Homo sapiens: one gene and its partner. The protein of the gene in region 1 purifies or fractionates together with the protein of each later gene. This does not show direct contact. Each region holds a gene or a part of one and is shown on either strand. Other genes may lie near its edges.

The links.
Region 2: the proteins of DCDC2B (region 1) and TNFAIP2 fractionate together in Homo sapiens (co-fractionation; one large-scale study listed by BioGRID). This does not show direct contact.

The regions. Positions count from the first base shown.
Region 1 is NC_000001.11:32,212,033-32,214,649, forward strand, and holds part of DCDC2B (doublecortin domain-containing protein 2B), read left to right. Parts: intron 1-37; coding exon 38-169; intron 170-457; coding exon 458-604; intron 605-721; coding exon 722-761; intron 762-2,444; exon of another isoform or gene 2,445-2,617.
Region 2 is NC_000014.9:103,129,662-103,133,476, forward strand, and holds part of TNFAIP2 (tumor necrosis factor alpha-induced protein 2), read left to right. Parts: intron 1-78; coding exon 79-193; intron 194-340; coding exon 341-463; intron 464-653; coding exon 654-754; intron 755-1,390; coding exon 1,391-1,489; intron 1,490-1,977; coding exon 1,978-2,101; intron 2,102-3,088; coding exon 3,089-3,211; intron 3,212-3,700; coding exon 3,701-3,815. UniProt on the Homo sapiens protein: May play a role as a mediator of inflammation and angiogenesis.

The DNA of each region.
Region 1 (2,617 bases):
CTGGGGACACTCCCCCTTACCAGGCTTTTTGTCTCAGTGTGTTCAGGAATGGGGACCTGGTAAGTCCCCCATTTAGTCTGAAGCTGTCCCAGGCTGCCAGCCAGGACTGGGAAACTGTGTTGAAGCTCCTGACTGAGAAGGTCAAGTTGCAGAGTGGGGCTGTGTGCAAGTGAGTATGGGGACTGCGAGGGCCCAAAAGTCCCCAAAGAGAGCCTCGCCACTGGCTTCAGCTGTGGCTGAGGATGAAGAGGCAAAAGGAAAGCATGTTCCCCCACATGGGACTTCCCCCTATGCCACTGGGAGAGGGCCCTCTGCCCAGCCCTCAGAGGCAGGGTAGAGCCTGGGTGCCTAGAGGCCAGAGGGCACCTTGGAATAGCTGCACCCACCCCTTCAGTCTGCTGAATGTGAAGAAGCATCGAGTCTACCAGCCCTTATCCTCCTCACCTCTCTCTCCCAGACTCTGCACCCTAGAGGGGCTCCCACTGTCAGCAGGGAAGGAGCTGGTAACTGGCCATTACTATGTGGCTGTCGGAGAGGATGAGTTCAAGGACCTTCCCTATCTGGAGCTGCTGGTGCCCAGCCCCTCCCTGCCCAGGGGCTGCTGGTATGTATGTGGGAGGTGGAGCGGTAACAGGCCGGGCAGAGGAAGCCACCCTCTGGGTCTGTGTGCTTTGACTCTATGCCCTCTGCCCACTACAAGCCTTTCCTTTTGTCATTGTAGGCAACCTCCAGGCTCGAAGTCTAGGCCCCACAGGCAGGGGGTAGGTGACGCAGGGGACAATGAGGGGTGGGAAGAAGGGGAGTGACTGGCTGACAACTCTTCTGGCACAGGCTCTGACCTTATTTCACTGCATCCTCTCTTTTTTCTTTTTCTTTGAGACAGAGTCTTGCTCTGTAGTCCAGGCTGGAGTGCAGTGGCAGGATCTTGGCTCACTGCAACCTCCGCCTCCCAGGTCCCGGTTCAAGCAATTCTCCTGCCTCAGCCTCCTGAGTAGCTGGGATTATGGGCACGCTCCACCATATCCAGCTAATTTTGTATATTTTTAGTAGAGATGGGGTTTCACCATGTTGGCCAGGCTGGTCTTGAACTCCTGACCTTGTGATCTGCCCGCCTCAGCCTCCCAAAGTGCTGGGATTACAGGCGTGAGCCACCGTGCCCGGCCTCCTTTTTTCTTTTAAATATAGAGATGAGTCTCACGATATTGCGAAGGCTGGTCTTGAACTCCTGGGCTCAAGCAATCCTCCCACCTTGGCCTCCCAAAGTGCTGTGATTACACTATGCCCAGCCTGCATCCTCTTAATAATTTTTTTTTTTTTTTTTGAGACGGAGTTTCACTCTTGTTGCTCAGGCTGGAGTGCAATAGCACAATCTCAGCTCACTGCAACCTCCACCTTCTGGGTTCAAGTGATTCTCCTGCCTCAGCCTCCCGAGTAGCTGGGATTACAGGTATGTGCCACCACACCCGGCTAATTTTTTTTTTTTTTTTTTTTTTTGAGATGGAGTCTCGCTCTGTTGCCCAGGCTGGAATGCAGTGGCGCAATCTTGGCTCACTGCCAGCTCCGCCTCCCGGGTTCATGCCATTCTCCTGCCTCAGCCTCCCGAGCAGCTGGGACTACAGGCACCCACCACCATGCCCGGTTAATTTTTTTTGTATTTTTAGTAGAGACGGGGTTTCACCGTGTTAGCCAGGATGGTCTCGATCTCCTGACCTCGTGATCAGCCCACCTCAGCCTCCCAAAGTGCTGGGATTACAGGCGTGAGCCACCGCGCTCAGCCACACCCGGCTAATTTTTTTAATTTTTAGTAGAGACAGGGTTTCTCCATGTTGGTCAGGCTGGTCTCAAACTCCCTCAGGTGATCTGCCCACCTCAGCCTCCCAAAGTGCTGGGATTACAGTCGTGAGCCACCTCGCCTGGCCACTCTTAATAATCTTGTGAAAGAAAGATTATCCCCATTTTCCAGAGGTGGAAACTGAAGCTGAAAAGTGAAGTGGGCCTTGGGCACGATGGCTCACACGTGTAATCCCAGCACTTTGGGAGGCTGAGGAGAGTGAATTACCTGAGGTCAGGAGTTCAAGACCAGCCTGGCCAACATGGTAAAACCCCATCTCTACTAAAAGTACAAAAAAATTAGCTGGGCATGGTGGTGGGTGCTTGTAGTCCCAGCTACTTGGGAGGCTGAGGCAGGAGAATCACTTGAACCTGGGAGGCGGAGGTTGTGGTGAGCTGAGATCACACCACTGCACTCCAGCCTGGGTGAGAGAGTAAGACTCAAGTCTCAAAAAAAAAAAAAAAAAAAAAAAAAGTGAAGTGATTTGTTCAGGGTGACAGAGTTATTGAGTGGCAGGGGCCAGACCAGAATTCTCATCTGATTTGCAGGACTTAATACCTTCTTGCTAGGTTGGACGCTGGGAGAGAGAATTGGTATATTTGGCACAGCAGGGTCCAAGGGAACTTATATTATCCAGCTCTAAGCCCTCCCAAGAAATGAGCCAGTGAGCATGGGGCATGGTGGTGGGGGTGGGGAAGCACAGTCTGGTTTCACTGGGCATCGAGGAGTGCCAGGCATCTACTGCTCTGTCCCTGGATAAGTCAGGCTGGTGGGAAGAGGCAGCAA
Region 2 (3,815 bases), on another chromosome or scaffold:
CTGAGGGCCTGGGCTCTAGCTTGAGTGGTGGTGCTGATTTGGTATAGTTGTCCTCATGCCAGCCTCCCCTGCCTGCAGTGACATCATCAACAGCCCCAAGCTGGTGGGTGAGCTGCAGGGTATGGGGCTCGGGAGCCTCCTGCCCCCCAGGCAGATCCGACTGCTGGAGGCCACATTCCTGTCCAGTGAGGCGGTGAGTCTCCACCTGGGCCAGGGAGGGGCAGGGAGGCAGCAGAGGAGAGGCTCGGAGACAGACAGGACATGGGCAGGGAGCTTGACGGGTCTTCCAGGTGAGCGAGGTGAGGGATAGTGCCCCAGTGACCTGCCCCTCCTCCTCCAGGCCAATGTGAGGGAGTTGATGGACCGAGCTCTGGAGCTAGAGGCACGGCGCTGGGCTGAGGATGTGCCTCCCCAGAGGCTGGACGGCCACTGCCACAGCGAGCTGGCCATCGACATCATCCAGGTACTGCAATCTGCCCCAGGGCACACGTACCGCCCGTGCACGTGCATGGGGAGCCCCACGCACATTCCGTCCTGTGTGCATACCCATGCCCACCTCGGGGCACCCCCTCTGTTCCCGCCTGTTTCCTCCCCGTCCCCTGCCCCCTTGTCCAGGCGAGCCCCTGCTCAGCTCACCCACCACCACCCTGCAGATCACCTCCCAGGCCCAGGCCAAGGCCGAGAGCATCACGCTGGACTTGGGCTCACAGATAAAGCGGGTGCTGCTGGTGGAGCTGCCTGCGTTCCTGAGGAGGTGGGTGTGTGCCCAGGATGGGGTCCCTGTAGCCACCGCTCTCAGAGCCACGGCCCCTCCCTAGTGCCTCAGGTGGGGAGCTGAGCTGGATCCCCGCCCTCTACCCCTGTCCCTGTCATTCTGAGCCAGGAGTTGTTTCCCACTCAGCCAGGGCACTGAGAGCCTCAGGTGGTCTGACCTCCACCAGGATTCAACGTGGGAGCCTCTTGCGCCCACCCCATCAGCAAAGCTCTCAGCAGAGCAGCCTCTAGCTTCAAAGAGGATACCCCAGGAGGGACTGAGACCCCGCCACCCCTTCATACAACACTCCTAGTCTCCACCACCTGAATTCTCTCTGCTCTCTCCCTCTCGACCTCTGAGGGCTTCTCCAGCCAACCACACGCTCACTCCTACCTGGTCTCCCAACTCTAGAGAGGGCCTGGGAGCAGCAGAGATGGGCTGGTACCCTCTTCAGGAGCCCAAGCCTTAGCTTGTGAAGCCAGTTCCATGATGCCCAGGGGCTAGCGGCCCCTCCCTTGGCTATGGGCAGCCAAACAGAAAAGTGAACCCCAGGAGCTGGCAGGGAGGGCAGGGAGGCTGCTGCTGTGGTCCCAGTGTTTGGGCTGGTCCTGAATGTGCCCCTTCTGGTTTCGCCAGCTACCAGCGCGCCTTTAATGAATTTCTGGAGAGAGGCAAGCAGCTGACGAATTACAGGGCCAATGTTATTGCCAACATCAACAACTGCCTGTCCTTCCGGTGAGAGTGTTGGGAGGGGCTTGCGGGAGTGGGAGTCACTCAGCGGGCAGGAGAGGGGAGCTGGAAGGTGGAGGGAGGAGGAGCTGCTTAGGCCAAGAAGTGGAATTCAAACCAGCAACATGTGTGAGGACTCCACGGCCTGCAGCAGCAGCAGCAAACATTTCCCAAGTGCTGGCTGGGGCAAGCACACAGGCAGATGTTTCACCCATTATCTTATCCTTAAAGCAACCCTGTGAAGTAGGTATAGTGATCTGTCTATTAGGCAGATGGGCAAACCACTGGAGGAGGCTCACTTGCCCCCAGTTACAAGGGGATGTAGTGGAGGAGTGTCCTGAGGGCATGGAGAACATGGATGGGAGGACTTGATCCCATAGAGAATGGGGAGCCATTGAGGGTTCTAGAGTGAAGAGAGGGGGCTGTCTGGCTCCCTGGGTATGGGGCTATAGGCTGAGCAGGGCTGGGGTGACCTCTCTGCCTCCACCTTCCAGGATGTCCATGGAGCAGAATTGGCAGGTACCCCAGGACACCCTGAGCCTCCTGCTGGGCCCCCTGGGTGAGCTCAAGAGCCACGGCTTTGACACCCTGCTCCAGAACCTGCATGAGGACCTGAAGGTAGCGGGAGCCTCTTGCCCTCAGGAGCCCAGTGTTGGGGGGTTCCCAGGGAGGGACTGGGAGGTGCCCCCAGGGAGGAGTGGCAGAAGCAAAGATGTGGGGAAGACACGCTCCAGGCCTGTGGACGGCACCGTGGGCCAGCTCTGGTGCAGCGGTGATGCCCGGTTGGGGACCCTAGCAGGCTCTGAACTCCGCCGATCATGTCCTGGGGTTTCACCTGAGAGGGGCCGCCTGGGGCTGGGAGGGGCCGCCTGGGGCTGGGAGGGGCCGCCTGGGGCTGGGAGGGGCCGCCTGGGGCTGGGAGGGCCTGGAAAAGTTTCACTGCCCCTCCCCGATTCAGACACAGCCCAGTCCCAAGCCTGCAGACACCTTTCCTTCAATCCCCTCAGCCCCTCCTATCCACCCCCATCCCCGCGCCTGACTCCCAGCAACTGAGGCTCAGGGTCATCGGCAGCTGGGGTTATATCTGTTATGGGCCAAGAAATCCACAGAAAATGCTGTGAAAACAAGTAGTTCCTTTAGCAGGGTGTAAAGTGGGGGGTCTCTCAAAAGGAAGGGGAGAGGTTCTCTTCCCGGTGTCAGGGACTAGCGGCCATGGGTGGCCTGAGTGTGGTGGAAGCCCGAGCGGTGACCCCACATCCCCTGGTACTGATCTCCCTGGCCCAGCCAAGCACAAGGTCTTGTTTATGAAGGAATTTATTTATTTAAGTGGCAGTGGACTTGGCCTCCGGGCCGGCAGACAGGCTCTCCTGGCTCCTGAGCCGCACTGGGTGACCTTGGATAAGGGTGCACAGAGCCGGCTCCCACTTCCTGTCTGTGAGCAGGGACCTGAGGTTGGCCCGGGTTCCCTGGGAGTCCTTGAGTGCCCCCCGCCCCTCCACCAGGCACATGTGTCGGTGTGTGTCTGTGTCTGCGTGTCTGCGTGTCTGCGGCTGGCAGCCCTTCCTCTCCAGGGCGTGACTAGACATCCTGCCTCTCCTGTCTCAGCCACTGTTCAAGAGGTTCACGCACACCCGCTGGGCGGCCCCTGTGGAGACCCTGGAAAACATCATCGCCACTGTAGACACGAGGCTGCCTGAGTTCTCAGAGCTGCAGGGCTGTTTCCGGGAGGTGAGGAGGCTCTGGGCTGGTGGCTGGGTCTTGGGGAGTTGGGGGCAGCCCGGACACGCACACTAGCACGTCTGTGTACACTCACGCACATGTGCTCACACGCGCACATGTGAACACACGTGAATGCACGAGCATGTGAACACGTGCACATGTGAACACACGTGAAGGCACGAACATGTGAACGCACGAGCATGTGAACACACACATGTGAATGCACGAGCATGTGAACACATGCACACATATGAACACACGTGAAGGCACGAGCATGTAAACACACACATGTGAACACGTGAACGCATGCACATGTGAACACACACGCATGTGAACGCATGAGCATGTGAACGCACACATGTGGACGCACGAGCACGTGTGCAGTCTTTTGCTCTGGCATCTGCCTCTCTCTGGAGGCCTGGCTACAAGGCTTCAAGGGAGGTGGCGAGCTCCCCATCAGCAGACAGCTCACACGCCCCTGGCTGCTTGCCCTCCCAGGAGCTCATGGAGGCCTTGCACCTGCACCTGGTGAAGGAGTACATCATCCAACTCAGCAAGGGGCGCCTGGTCCTCAAGACGGCCGAGCAGCAGCAGCAGCTGGCTGGGTACATCC